Linked DNA regions of Homo sapiens: region 1 is reported to be linked to region 2. The links are microRNA targets in miRTarBase. Many come from high-throughput screens and were not tested one by one. Region 2 holds a microRNA gene; the other region holds the end of a gene's coding sequence.
What was found. Region 2 holds the annotated microRNA hsa-miR-134-3p (CCUGUGGGCCACCUAGUCACCAA, at 2,947-2,969, shown strand). A microRNA usually pairs through its seed, bases 2 to 8, with sites in the 3' UTR of a target mRNA and lowers its output. Matches are read on the target gene's strand: a 7mer-m8 pairs with bases 2 to 8, a 7mer-A1 pairs with bases 2 to 7 and ends in A, and an 8mer does both.

Region 1: miRTarBase lists PAICS as a target of hsa-miR-134-3p. Seed matches in the 3' UTR shown: 7mer-A1 at 1,500-1,506.

What each region holds. Positions count from the first base shown.
Region 1 is chr4:56,459,050-56,463,440 of GRCh38, forward strand. It overlaps PAICS (phosphoribosylaminoimidazole carboxylase and phosphoribosylaminoimidazolesuccinocarboxamide synthase), which reads left to right. Exons shown (of 9, transcript NM_001079524.2): 9 at 323-4,391. The coding sequence ends at 489. LOC124900706 (a long non-coding RNA gene) reads right to left here. Exons shown (of 2, transcript XR_007058126.1): 2 at 2,261-3,944. Among named protein-coding and RNA genes, the nearest start is that of SRP72, 6.4 kb to the right of the region's middle. RefSeq lists an enhancer at 1-1,148.
Region 2 is chr14:101,051,786-101,056,176 of GRCh38, forward strand. It overlaps MIR134 (microRNA 134), which reads left to right and starts at 2,902; the gene lies at 2,902-2,974. MIR487A (microRNA 487a) reads left to right here and starts at 661; the gene lies at 661-740. It overlaps MIR382 (microRNA 382), which reads left to right and starts at 2,521; the gene lies at 2,521-2,596. MIR668 (microRNA 668) reads left to right here and starts at 3,473; the gene lies at 3,473-3,538. It also overlaps MIR485 and MIR381HG.

The sequences.
Region 1 (4,391 bases), not on the chromosome of region 2:
CCAGGGATTGAAAGGGATAGTGTATGTGAACAGAAGTTTCAAAAAGATAAGTTTCTTTGTAAGTGAGTTCTATAAGAAGGGTGATAGATGATATATATAAAATATCTCTTCATGGCAGGTAATACTGACTGCTTTTCCTCTTGTAATCACTTTACCACTCCGGTATTAAAGACAGTTGTACAGATTCTACTTTAGATTAGAATAATGCAGTAGCTTTTTATTTTCTGTGGCAGGACTGCTCTGAGTATAAAATTTTTTGTAAGGTTGTATTTTCATTACTAATTGAGCTCAATTTTCTGTCTTTTCCTTGCTGAACCAATAGGTCTTGGCTGTTCAACCGTACTTTCTCCAGAAGGATCAGCTCAATTTGCTGCTCAGATATTTGGGTTAAGCAACCATTTGGTATGGAGCAAACTGCGAGCAAGCATTTTGAACACATGGATTTCCTTGAAGCAGGCTGACAAGAAAATCAGAGAATGTAATTTATAAGAAAGAATGCCATTGAATTTTTTAGGGGAAAAACTACAAATTTCTAATTTAGCTGAAGGAAAATCAAGCAAGATGAAAAGGTAATTTTAAATTAGAGAACACAAATAAAATGTATTAGTGAATAAATGCTTCTCTAGATCCATATTAATAAACATGAGCATCTAACCCCTCCTTTCTTAGGCTAGACACCAAGATATTTCAGCCAGCCTTTATCATTCCTCTTACTTTATCCTTTTTCCTTAAGTATTGGTGGTCACTACTATTGAGTTTCTTCCTTAACACTGATTAAATGATCTTAACTCCCTCAGCTAAAACTGGCATTACTGACTCCCAGCTATATTTCTCCAGACTTGCATTTTTTTTTTTTTTTTTGAGACAGGGTCTCACTGTCGCCCAGGCTGGAGTGCAGTGGCGTGATCTCAGTTCACTGCTGCTTTCCCTCCTGGGCTCAAGCAGTTCTCCCACCTCAGCCTCTCGACTAACAGGGACTATAATCTTGCAGCACCATGCCGAGCTAATTTTATTTTTTGTAGAGATGAGCTCTCACTATGTCACCCAGGTTCGTCTCAAACTCCTGAACCCTAGTAATTCTCCTATCTCAGCCTCCCAAAGTGCTAGGGTTACAGACATGAGCCACTGTGCCTGTCTAGACTTGTACTTTCAACTGTCCATTTCTCCCTGTCTGTCCCATGGGCACTCATGAAAAAACAGAATGCTCCCAACTTTATTCATCTTCCAAGCCTGTAGCTCTTGGTATACTCACTGTTGCAAGTCAGAAGCTTGATTTCATCATTGATGTTTTTCTCACGTTTCACATCTCACTCATCACCAAGTCATGTTGGTGTTAATTTCTGATTAACCCTTGAATTTACCGTCTTCTCATCCTCTGTACAAAAGCCTCAAGTGAGGGTCAAATTCAACATTATCCTGATCTAGACAGCCCCCATTCTCAATCCACCCTTTTCCAAGTTGATTGCCCAAGGACTTCTAACAATAAACTCTCTTTTGCACCACAGACTTCTTTGAAAATATACATGCTGTTGACCCTCTCTGTAGAAAACCGCACACATAAAACTTACCAACAGATTTCATTGGTTCTTGGGTTCTCCCGAAGCCTATCCATGGTTTATAGATTAAGAATTGATGAGGTAGCTGGGCACAGTGGCTCACACCTACGATCACAGCACTTCGGGAGGCTGAAGCAAGCAGATCACTTGAGGTCAGGAGTTTGAGACCAGCCTGGCCAACATGGTGAAACCCTGTCTCTACTAAAAATACAAAAAGTAGCCAGCCGTGATGACAGGCACCTGTAATCCCAGCTACTCGGGAGGCTGAGGCATGAGAATTGCTTGAACCCGGGAGGCGGAGGTTGCAGTGAGCCTAGATCATGCCACTGCACTCCAACCTGGGCAGCAGAGCAAGACTCTGTCTCAAAAGGGGAAAAAAAAAATTGCTGATGTGACCCATGAAGGGAACTCATTTTCCTCGTAATTTTGGACTGCCACACATTGGTACCTTTAGTTCTCTGAAGGCCCACGTTTTTATCATTAAGACCTATTTGTTAGCTAGTAGAGCTTTATGTTCGCTGTCCATGAAACCTTCTGTAACCACAGTGACTACAAGTAGTTCTTTCTCTATTGAATTATTAGGTCCAGAATAGAAGATGTCATTGTACACTTTATTTCCCTCACACTGTGTTATGCTCTGATGTGCTATGCTTAGCTATCTGTCAGAGATTAGTAAATTATAAAACTCATGTGTACTACTTAAGTTTATATCTTATGCTAGTTTATAAGAACAATTAAAAGGACTTAGAAGATTAACTTTGGTTTCATGGTCTCTGAAGTCACTGACTGCTATTTCAGCTTGTTTACCCTTACCTAGCATTAAGACTCCATCTACTTCTGTGCAGTATATGAAAATTTTTAAACTTTCATTTAGACTGGTGGATAGGACTGACCATTACAAATTGTCGTTATCAATTTTTTTTCCTTTTTTTTTTTAAGAGCCAAGTTCTCACTGTCTCCCAGGCTGGAGTGCAGTGGCATGATTATGGCTCCCTGCAGCCTTGAACTCCTGGACTCAAGCTGCAGCCTCTCGAGTAGCTGGGTGCATGTGCTACCACACCCAATTATGAATTTCATCATTAGTTTCTTAGTAGAGTCCACATGTCCTCAGTAGTAAGTTCATCAGTGCTAAATATTTGAAGGTATTTCTACTGTTTTGTAAAAGTAACTTAAGCCTACCTGGTCTGCTATCTTTTGAGTATTTATACTTTCTACGGGCTTGTAGGTAAACATAAAAAGAGAAAAAATATCCCAATAATACAGTTTTTAACCTTTTATGATAAAGACATGCTTAGAATTGCTGTTAAGCTTTCTGAGATTTAACCACTGAAACTAAGTAAAAGACAAAGCACTTAGGTAAAGCTTCATTCAGTATCCATTCACCCAATACTGGTTTGATTCTAGGGCCTAGGAAAATAGGACTGAGCAAAGCCCTTGTCCAGATGGAACTTATGTTTTAGAGGGGAAAACAAACCATAAAAAGGTAAACAGTATAAAATCAGGAAAGGATAAATGTATATGAAGAATCAAAATGAGGACGGTGATGGGGATAAGAGGGGAAGGTTTTTGAGGAGAGCAGAGCAATGATGTAAAAGCAAGACACACAGATAGGGAAATAGCTTTCCATACTAAGGGAATGGGAAATAAAGCTGAGTTTTGCCTTGAGGACCTCCAAACATGAGAATTGCTAGAGCTCTGTGAACAAGGATGAGAGTGGAAGACAATATAAGCAAAGGCTACATCACTTAGGGCCTATAGGCCACACTGAAGTGTGACAGGAAAAACTCAGTTTGAGCAGAGGCTTGACATACTTAACATATTTAAAGGTTCTCTGGCTGTTGTGTGGACAAGAGGAGAAGCAGAGATTAGTTAAGAGGCTATTGTAGCCCAGGTGAGGGATGATGTATGATCTTCAACATGTCTAATTTTTTTGTGCCTCAATTTCATGAAATGAAAATGCGACTAATACCACCTCATAAAGTTGTGAGAATTACATGAGTCAATATATGTAAGGCCCATCATGGCACACAAATGTGTTATGTAATATCCATTTGGCAGACTGAAGAACAACAGTATGAATGGAATTCATTCACCATGAGAATTACCTGGAATTCTCTGGGCATGGTAGCTCATGCCTGTAATCCCAGCACTTTGGGTGGCCGAGGCAGGTGGATCACCTGAGATCAGGAGTTCGAGACCAGCCTGACCAACATGGAGAAACCCAGTCTCTAATAAAAATACAAAACTAGCCGGGCATGGTGGCACATTCCTGTAATCCCAGCGACTCAGGAGGCTGAGGCAGGAGAATCGCTTGAACCTGGGAAGCGGAGGTTGTGGTGAGCCGAGGTTGCGCCATTGTACTCCAGCCTGGGCAACAAGAGCAAAACTCTGTTTCAAAAAAAAAGAAAGAAAGAAAATTACCTGGAATTCAATATTGCCATCGGCTGATTTAATTTCTAATATGAAGAAAGGGGCAGTGTGATGTGCCACGGAGCATCCACAACCTGCCATTTCAGCCCAGCCAACCTTAGAAAGCCATTGAAAAGAGTTGTTTTTAATGGTGTTTTTACATCCAGCTTCCCACACCTCAAATACTTGGGGTGGAATTGTTAATCTCACATTGCAGTACAATGAAAATAGTGGAATGGAAATCAAGTTATAAAATGGAGCTAAATATTTCTTCTGCTTGCCTCTGAGTTGATAAGATACCATAAGATACTGTACATGAGGCTGGGCGCGGTGGCTCACGTCTTATTTCTTCTGCTTGCCTCTGAGTTGACAAGATACCATAAGATACTGTACATGAGGCTGGGTGCAGTGGCTCACGCCTGTAAT
Region 2 (4,391 bases):
CTCGTAAGGATGACCCATGGCAGAGCCTGTGTCTTCATTGGAGTAAGACTCACATGCTGTGGCCTCCAGGCTCTGGAGGCCTCGGGGGCAGAGCAGGGTTGAGGCTGACCGTGGGGCCTCGCCTGGGTTTGTGGCTTATCATATTGGACCACTGTTTTTCAGGACAAACTCCCCGGAGATGTCCCCTGGCAGGACCCTGACCTGGAGGCAGGGTGCTGTCCATGATAGGGGAATGGATGGTTGATCAGAGAACGTACATTTTATAAATGGTGTATGTCAGTTGATCCACAGTCCCTACCTATCCAGTGACTTCTGGAGGCCACATCAGCTCAGAAGACAAGGTGGTGGTTTCCTAGGCCATGCTATTTTCTGGCACTTGAAAGGACCTTCTCCTTGCCGGGTTTGCTTTCTTTATGCCCAGTCTCATGAGGGAGTGCCTTTTTTGAGTATGGATCTTGCTGGGGAAGCTTTCTGGAAGGAGCTGTTGCCCTTCGTCCCTCTCCAGGGGCAAGAATGCATGGTTGGCTGGAAAGCAAGGGCTTGATTGACATTGTGCACCCCTCAACTCTCCTAACCCTCTGTCCCCAATTCATCCTCAGGCGGACTAGCTGGAAGGAAGGCAGACTCTGGTGAAGACGTGGGCCGTCACCGTCAGCCTTCGGTACTTGAAGAGTGGTTATCCCTGCTGTGTTCGCTTAATTTATGACGAATCATACAGGGACATCCAGTTTTTCAGTATCAAATACTGCTTTGGAAGGCTTCCCGGACAGCGTCCCGCCTTCAGGCAAGGGGTCTTGGCTTCACCTCCCACCCAAGGTATGTATGTGAACGGGCCATCGCAGTGCACTAGCTTCTTCATGTGCCACAGCCATGACCAGAATCGAATCTCTGAGGAAGATGGTTACTTCTAAGGCTGTGATTTTCTGGAAGGGGCTTTGGTGTCTGCACTACATTATTGGGGGAAGTTGACCAGTGAGAGGCCCATTCACACAAGACGTCTGTCACCTGCTCCAAGTGACCCTCACCCTTGGTAAGATGAATCTCTGGAGACATGCTGGCTCGGTAGTGTTACTGTCATCAGCCGGACTGACTGATAGGTAATTGGTCATCATTATTGCTTTTGTTCCAGGGCAGAATTTTTGAGTGCCAAATCTTGCCAGGGAAGGGTTTCTGGAAGCAGCACCGCCCTCTGGGGAGACTTGGCATCCACATCTGTTGGAGTTTGTGGAGAGTTAGTTGAGCAGTCTGAGCTTTGTTTCTGAGGCGTCTCCCTGAGCTCACTCTCCTGCCAGAGCTGTGTCCTGCCCATGGCCATAATGGCTATTGAGAGGGTTGGTGACTTTGGCCACCATGATTTTGTTTCGATAAAGTTCTCTCTTTTTAAAAAAATCAGATTCTTTTGTTTATAGCATAACTACATGGTTCATGAGTTGATCAAATAACAAGGAATGACTTGGTCATTCCATAAATAGTGATGGAGTGCACACTGTGTTCTAGGTGATTCTGGACCTTAGCAGAGAGCAGTGAATGAAATCAAGTTCTTGCTCATGTGGACTTTACATTCTGGTGGAAGAGACGGATGAGAACACATGAATTAGGAAGCGTAATTTTGTCCACTGCTAGGTTTTATGGGGAAAGGGAAAGCGGGTTACAGTGACAGAAAGAGGTAAAAGCAGGTGGACCTTTGTGTTAAATACAGGGGTCTGGAAAGCTCTCTCTGAGGATGTGGGTGGGAATGGAGTGGGGTGGACCAGAGGAAGGTCTGGGGTAGGAGCATTTCAGGAGGAGGGCAAGGCCCATGGAAAGCCCCCTGGCATCTTTAAGAAAAAGCAAGAAGGCCAGTGGGATTGAACCGAGCTGCTGGGAGTCGCTGGGTCTGAGCTGGGAGAGGCAGGACTCCAGGTTTTATTCTGAGTGAGATGGGGGATTTGGAAGGGTTGTGAGCAGGGGGGATGCGTGGTCTGTGTTGGAAAGATCACTCTGACCACAAGGGCATTGATAGAGAATCTACCCAGGGCAGTGATGGGGAACCTACCAGGAGCCTGGCGTGCCTGAGCTGGGCAGTTTCTCTAGGGGCACCTGCAGTGGCAAAAGGGGGCCCCCTCTGGACCTCCCTAGTTCAGTGGGCCCTGCGGGAGCCTGGCTGGCACCTTGATGTGCTTGATGGATAACTCAGTGTGCTCTGTTGAGAAGTCCAAGGCCCTGTTCAGAAACCCTGGGGTCTACACACTGCGGAGTGCTCCTGGCGTGTGACAAGTGGCTTCCCTCTTCTTATTTCTAAACCTTGTGCGTGTGGATTCAGGACCACAATTTCAACTCCAGGGAAGGGGGACTGTGCCAGCACCACTCCAAGGGAGGTGAGTGAAGGGTTGCCCAAACTCCAGTGTGTTCCTAGGACACCCGTAAGCTGCCTCACTAATGCTCGGTGTCCACTCTGTCCACAGGATGGTGGTTGGCAGCCACTCCCCTTGGAGAAGTGGAAGGGGACTCCTTGTCTGTCTTGTCTCTGCTTTTCTGTGGTACTTGAAGAGAAGTTGTTCGTGGTGGATTCGCTTTACTTATGACGAATCATTCACGGACAACACTTTTTTCAGTACCAAATGCTACCTCTAAGGACTTCCTGGACACAATGGCAGCTTCAGGAAAGATAGTCTTTGTGTCAACCATGTGGAAAAGCCAAGAATGGATGGCGGGCCATGGACAATGCGCTGACCTAGCTGTAAGTCACCTGGCCCGATAATCCGAGCCTCCCATGCACCTATAGGAGGTCTTCCCATGGGTCTCACCAACTCTGGGGAATCAGCTGTGGTTCTGTCACCAGCGTCACCTCACAAGACTTTGAAGAGAGGCTCCCTGGGCCCCAGGCCGACTTCCAGAAGAGATGTTGGTGTCAGCACCGTCCAGGGTGTGTGACTGGTTGACCAGAGGGGCATGCACTGTGTTCACCCTGTGGGCCACCTAGTCACCAACCCTCAGCATCACTCCCACTCCAGGAAGACTTTCCAGAGCTCCCACCAACTCTGGGGAAGCGGCCATGGACTTGCTGTGACTGCTTGGTGGACTGCGATGACACGTGCTCTTGGGGGTGTATGTTTACTTAAAATGCAATGAGTCAGCCTTGGCAGCCCCTTCACCACTGTGACAGCCTCCTTGAAGTGTTGACTTCCGATGTGGGACGCCATGTTGTCTTCTGTTGAGGGACCTGATGTGGGCCAGCTTTTCTCCTGGGTGTGTGACTGAATCCTTCTTCCCAGAGCATGTGCTGCCTTTGTTAGGTCTGTCACGTCGTCCTCTAATACCCAGCATCCTGTCTCTCCCTAGGAGGCTCCATGGAGATAATGCGGCTTTGGGAAGCGGCCATGATTCTCCTGTCAGGGACCAGTGAGCTACGCAAAAGCTCCCTGTCTTGTCTGGAAGGACGAACTGCATCCTTGCTGCTGGGGAGAAGGCAGTGCCCTCAGCACTCCCTTAAGGTAAGTGCGCCTCGGGTGAGCATGCACTTAATGTGGGTGTATGTCACTCGGCTCGGCCCACTACCCAATACTATCCCACCCATTCCTAACAGGACTCCCGAGAAGGGCGGCCACCTCTGCCAGAGAGGCAATGGATTTCTCACCAGTGTTCATGTGTGGTACTTGGAGAGAGGCTGGCCGTGATGAATTCGATTCATCAAAGCGAGTCATACACGGCTCTCCTCTCTTTTAGTGTCAAATTCTGCCTCGGAGGGCTTCCTGAGCCAGTGCTGCTTCCAAGGTAGGTTTCTGGATGGCTGACCCCATGGCAAGCATTTTCCTGAGGATGCATGTAACTGACCTACTAACTTTAGAGTCCAAGCTGACCCTAAAACAACTTCCTGGGGCACTACCAACTTTAGGAAAATCGAGAGAGGTTGTTGGGATGCCCTAATTTTTTAAAAGTTAAGATTGAAATACACATGGCTGACTTCTTTTTTTATTCCTATCAAATTCAACCTTGGAGTTGAATCTTGGGCATCTAGAAGCATCTTTTATTAGTCAGCCGTCGGGATACAGAAGAAAACAGGAACAGGACTCTGTGCGACCCCTGGTTTACTAACCCACAGCAGCCTTACACCCTCCAGAGAATTCCTGTAAGGGAATCCCAGGTTTACCAAGGAGGCAGTGCTTAGCCTGCTTTTGCACACACATTTGTGTGTGGTTTGCTTCATATTTAATGACTCCTGTGCCACTGACATCCTTGCATTATTAAATGTTGCCTGCATGGCCAGCTGAGCACAAGAAGTGGTATTTCTGTGCACACTAATCCTGGCTTGGTGAACCTGGGGTTGGCCGGAGAGCATGGGTTTGAGCCACCTGGTCCACTCATCCTCAGGGTCCCATCCACCCTCAGAGGCCACTCCCAAGCTGCCCAGG